Regions from separate parts of the Homo sapiens genome. Here region 1 is linked to region 2. Evidence: fine-mapped expression QTL. A gene starts in region 2. The other region holds a variant in brackets. All regions are shown on one strand. Distances are between the middles of the regions.

Region 1 (2,903 bases), 21 kb before region 2:
ATACATTATATAATTGTTATGTAATCATTAATGTGGCACAGAACAACAAATACGGATCTTGCAGACAGAAAAAAAATTGTGGTCATCCTCTTTATGAACTTTCTTGATTGATTTCATAAAACATCTATAATCATTGTTTAATCTGAGCTTTTTTTTTTTATTTTTTGAGACGGAGTTTTGCTCTCGTTGTGCAGGTTGGAGTGCAATGGCATGATCTCAGCTCACTGCAACCTCTGCCTCCCGGGTTCAAGCGATTCTCCTGCCTCAGTCTCCCGAGTAGCTGGCATTACAGGCGCACACTGCCACACCTGGCTAATTTTTGTATTTTTAGTAGAGATGCGGTTTCACCATGTTGGCCAGGCTGGTCCTGAACTCCTGACCTCAAGTGATCTGCCTGCCTTGGCCTCCCAAAGTGCTGGGATTACAGGCATGAGTCACCACGCCCGGCCTGGTCTGGGTTTTTGGATAGCTCATAGACATGAATTCTTCAGGGCAGGAGTCTCCAAAGTGTTTAGATCATAGATCCTAATGGGCAAAACCTTTCCCGCAGGTGCCCACCATATACGTGTATCTTAAAACTTAAGAATTATATATATGCATTGCTGCTCTCATATTTTATGTATAATCATAAAACTCCTAACAAAATGGACTTTTTTTTTGAGATGGAGTCTTGCTGTGTTGCCCAGGCTGGAGTACAGTGGTGTGATCTTGGCTCACTGCAACCTGCACCTCCCAGATTCAAGATTCTCCTGCCTTAGCCCCCTGAGTAGCTGGGATTACAGGTGCACACCACCATACCTGGCCAATTTTTGTATTTTTAGTAGAGACGGGGTTTAACCATGTTGGCCAGGCTGGTCTTGAACTCCTGACCTCAGGTGATCCACCCGCCTCGGCATCCCAAAGTGCTGGGATTACAGGCGTGAGCCACCACGCCCAGCCAAAATGGAAATTTCTAAATGCCAAGTAAAAGATTAAACAAACAATATTCTTTTTAATGTCTTGCTAATTATGATGGTTTCCATTACATCTCAAGGCAAAATATGCATTTGGGGTGAGGATTATTGTCAACAATGATGGATTTTCTAATCTGTACTTCGACTAGACTTCTGGATAATTAGGGTTCGTGTGACTGTCCTCTGCGGGCTGACTGGCTGGCTGCCTTTGTTTTTACCTTGGGATATGTCTGACCAAGAGCACAGGCCAGGAATAAGACAGCTGCTCTGATGCGTTCTCACTCTTTACTCTGCTTGGCTTGTTAGTGTTTCCTTCATTCCACAGTTCCTTTGTATGAATCTTTTTAAGGCATACACCGAATTTAGTTAGAACCAGACAAGATAGGTACCAGCAGCTACAGATCCACTCTGGTAAGCCAATACTTCACCAACGTATGTTGCCATATTTTAA[G/A]ATGTAACAGACAGGTGTGGTGGCTCACGCCTGTAATCCCAGCACTTTAGGAGGCCAAGGTGGGCAGATTGCTGGAGCCCAGGAGTTCAAGACCAGCCTGGGCCACACAGTGAGGCCCCATCTCTACAAAAAATATAAAAATTAGCCAGGTGTGTTGGCGCATGCCTCTGGTCCCAGCTACTTGGGAGGCTGAGGCAGGAGGATTGTTTGAGCCCAGGATGCAGAGGTCGCAGTGAGCTGAGATCGCACCACCGCACTCCAGCCTGGATTGACAGACCAAGACCCTGTCTCACTTAAAAAAAAAAAAAGAGCTAACAAACTGTCAGATGGGACTTCACCGTGAAACTCCCATTCATCCTGCAAGGTTCCCTTGGGTGACAGCTGAGAAGCCACCACCGCAGTGCCACCAAGCCTGAGGGGTGTCCCTGCCTGTGACCTCAGGTCCCCCTTCTGCCTCTTTAGTCCTCCATTCCTCATTCCACCAATGCCCAATATTAAATTCTCTCTGCTAAACTAACCAGTGCGTTTTCTGTTTTTCTGACTAGACTGTCATGGGTACAGAGAGCCAGTGTCAGCTCAGAGTCAATATTCATAAAACCTGATTTCTTGCTTAATCTTAAGCAATAATCTCATCTCTTCTTCCTGGTCCTCAGTGGATCACCTCACACCCCAGGGGCATGATCACTGCTCTAGAACATAGAACACGTGGGATATTTAATGCTAACTTAATTACCCCCATCATTGGCTTGCTGTGTACCCACTGTGGCAGAGTGAATCACGGCCCCCAAAAAGATGCCCACGTCCTAATCCCCAGATCCTGTGGATGTGACCTCATGTGGTAAAAGGGACTTTGCAGATGTGATTAAGTTATGTATCTTGGCCGGGTGTGGTGGCTCATGCCTTTAATGCCAATGCTTTGGGAGGCTAAGGTGGGAGGATTACTTAAGGCCAGGAATTCAAGATCAACCTGGGCAACACAGTGAGACCTTGTCTCCACAAAAAAAAATAATAATAATAAGGGCAGGGCGCAGTGGCCCATGCCTGTAATCCCAGCACTTTGGGAGGCTGAGGTGGACAGATCACCTGAGGTCAGGAGTTCGAGACCAGCCTGGCCAACATGGGGGAAACCTCGTTTCTGCCAAAAATATAAAAATTAGCCAGGTGTGGTGGCCCGCACCTGCAATACCATCTACTGGGGAGGGTGAGGCAGGAGAATTGCTTGAACACAGGAGGCAGAGGTTGCAGTGAGCTGAGACCATGCCACTGCATTCCAGTCTGGGTGATAAAGCAAGACTCTGTCTCAAAAAAAAAAAAAAAAAATGCCGGGCGCGGTGGCTCACGCCTTTAATCTCAGCATTTTGGGAGGCTGAGGCAGGCGGATCATGAGGTCAGGAGATCGAGACCATCCTGGCTAACATGGTGAAACCCCGTCTCTACTAAAAATACAAAAAAGTTAGCTGGGCGTGGTGGTGGGCGCCTGTAGTCCCAGCTACTTGGGA
Region 2 (2,903 bases):
TTTTGGAGCGACTGGGGCGGGGAGGGGGGGTCTCACCATGTTGCCCAGGTTGGTCTTAAACTCTTGGCCTCAAGCGATCCTCCTGCCTCGGTCTACCCAGTAGCTGGAACCACAGGCGTGCCAGATTCGGCTGAAGAGTTTTGTTAGGAAGTTTTCAGCACCTTGGACCATATCCTGAAAAAGTTCATTCATTGATTTAACCAATCTCTAGTGTGCACTGCCCAGAACCAGAGTGTAAGCTCCACAGGGTAGGGAGGGCGCCAGCTTTGCTCTCAGCTGCCCCCGGGCGCTTGGGACCTGGAACCCATGAATGAACAGACCCCGTTCTAGATCAACAGACATTCAAAGCAGCGCTCTAGGGGAAGGGCAGGGGAGGAATGAGCGTCCAGCCCCCGCGGCTCTACTTCTATGCCTGTGTGTAAGTGGTGGGATTTAAAGGTGGTTGGGTGCACCGGCCCTTCCCCCACCTGCAATCCGGTGCCAATGCAAGTGCCAGGGGAGGGTGGCGTTTCTGTTTACTTCCAGCCAGGTCAGCTCCCTTGCCCCCTCCCCTGTGTTTGCATTTTCTGCGTTTGGCGAGCTGGTGAAGTAGCCGCGGAAAGAAGGCGGATTTAAAGGCTCCATTTGGACGAGGCTTTTGGAGAAAGCTTGCACCTCCCATCACACCCCCAGGGCAAGTCAGCCGCCTCAAAAGTGCCGGTGCCGGCCCTCTGTGAGCTCAACACCTTCGCACAAACCTCGGGGGCGGTTATTATTACCCTCTTTTTCCCGGGGAGGCGCCTGGGGCTCAGAGAGGCCAAGTGACTCGCCCAAGGTCACACAGCTTTGCAGTGGCCGACCCGGGATTGGAACCCGGGGCTCCGGACCCCGCGGCGGCCGTTTCTCGAAGATACCCACTACCTCCCTCTTACACCGCTCAAAAATAAAGCAGGAAGGCCGAACGCCCCGTTTTCGCCGAAAAACAATGCTCCACGCAAATTTGCGGGAACAAAAGCAACCAGAAATCCAGCCCGGGTTTTCCGCCTCTCCGATTCCGCGGACCAATCGCGTCTTGACGGCCGCCGAGGGACGGGAGGCGGTGGCCCCAACATGATCGACAGCCCCCAGGGAGGCGTGGCCGCGGAACGGGCGAATGGGATTGGGGACCCGGCACAATCACGGGCCGAGAACGGGCCGCCTGAGCCAATCAGTGGGGGGGGGACGGGCCCGGCAGGCCCGGGCTGTCGCGAGAGGCGGCCACCCCGCCCACTTCTGCTGATCCCGGCCGCCCGTCAGCCGCGAGCGCGACGATCCCTCCGCTCCTCGGCCGGCGCCTCCTCCGCCGTCGCCGTCGCCGTCGCCGTCGCCGTCGCCGCCGCCGCCGCGCTCGGGCCCGGATCCGTCCGCCGCGCGGGAGCAGCAAGGCCGGCAAGTCCCGGCCGGATCCCTCCGCGCCTCCCGCCGCGCGTCCCTCCCCCTCCAGCGTCCGTTTCGCGGCCGCGGCCCCCAGCGCTCCCCAGGCGGCGACGCCGCGCCCGCGGCCCGGGGTAACGGCCGGCCTGGGCGGAGGCGCGGGCGGCGGCGACGGCATGGCCGGGGCGGCTCCGTCGGGGGGCGGCCCGCAGTGACAGACCCTGCGGCGCGGGGGGAGATGGGGGCGGCCGCCTCCCGGGCGACGACGACGACGACGACGAGGAGCAGCCGCCGCCGCCGCCGCGCACCGGCCGCCGCTGGGCACGGGCGCGGGGAAGGCGCCTCCCCGTGAGCGGGGGGCCCGAGGCCGCTCGCCGCCCCCGGCCGCCCCGGCCGCCCCGGGCCCCCCCGGCGCCCCGCGCGCGCCCGCCCGCCGGCCCCTGACGGGAGCCTTGCCCGGCCCCGGTCCCCGCCCCCGCCCCGGCGCCCGCCCGGCCCGCGGCGCCCGCGCGCCCTCGCCCGGACCCGGCCCCGGCCCGCGCGTCCCCGGTCCCGGCGCGCCCCGGCCGCGGCCCCCGGCGCCCCCCGGCCGCCCCCGCGCGGTCCCCGGCCCCGGGTCGCGGCGCGGCGCGGGCGGCAGCATGGTGGAGAAGCGCTGCCCGCTGCAGAGGGACGGCGTGTACCGCTGGTTCTCGGAGCTGCCGTCGCCGCAGCGCGTGGAGTTCCTGTGCGGCCTGCTGGACCTGTGCATCCCGCTCGAGCTTCGCTTCCTCGGCTCGTGCCTGGAGGACCTGGCCCGCAAGGACTACCACTCGCTGCGCGACTCGGAGATCAAGGCCAACAACCCGGCCGACCTGGGCAGCCTCACCAACCTGACGGACGAGGTGGTGCGCAGCAAGCTGCTGGTGTCGCTGGCGCTGCTGGGCTCGGAGCAGCGCGAGGCGGCGGGCGTGCTCTACCGCACGCTCACGCACATCGACTCCATCATCCACAACTACGGGCTGCAGCTTAACGAGGGCCGCACGGGCGATGAGTTCCTGCTGCTGTTCACCATGGCCTCCAACCACCCGGCCTTCAGCTTCCACCAGAAGCAGGTGCTGCGCCAGGAGCTCACGCAGATCCAGAGCAGCCTGAACGGCGGCGGGGGCCACGGCGGCAAGGGCGCGCCCGGGCCGGGCGGCGCGCTGCCCACTTGCCCAGCCTGCCACAAGGTGCGTGCCCGCCCCGAGCTCTGCCCTGTACCCCAAGTCTGCATCCCCAACTCTGCACTCCAAGCCTCCAGCCTGCACCGCGACCCCCCGACCCACGCCTCCAGCCTGCACTGAGAGCTCCCACCCAGGTCTCCAACCTGCACCACGAGCCCCCAGCCCGTATCCCAAGCCCCATCCTAAGCCTCTATGTCGCACCCCAAATGTGTGCCCCACCTCTCCAAGCCTCCACCGTACATCCCAAGCCTCCGCCGTACATCCCAAGCCTCCGCCGTACATCCCAAGCCCCCATCCTAAGCCCGC

The links. PIP is the estimated chance that this variant, and not a neighbour inherited with it, causes the effect.
Region 1: its variant is the best candidate, but not a certain one, in a credible set for the expression of ZCCHC14 in whole blood (GTEx, PIP 0.56).

Annotation. Positions count from the first base shown.
Region 1 is chr16:87,512,317-87,515,219 of GRCh38, reverse strand. The region is part of intron 3 of ZCCHC14-DT (ZCCHC14 divergent transcript); the gene reads right to left. Among named protein-coding and RNA genes, the nearest start is that of ZCCHC14-DT, 20 kb to the right of the region's middle. The variant G/A (reference allele first, on the strand shown) is at 1,405.
Region 2 is chr16:87,491,369-87,494,271 of GRCh38, reverse strand. ZCCHC14 (zinc finger CCHC-type containing 14) reads left to right here and starts at 1,248. Exons shown (of 13, transcript NM_015144.3): 1 at 1,248-2,603. The coding sequence starts at 2,034. It overlaps ZCCHC14-DT (ZCCHC14 divergent transcript), which reads right to left and starts at 85. Exons shown (of 4, transcript NR_110943.1): 1 at 37-85. RefSeq lists a silencer at 1,130-1,309.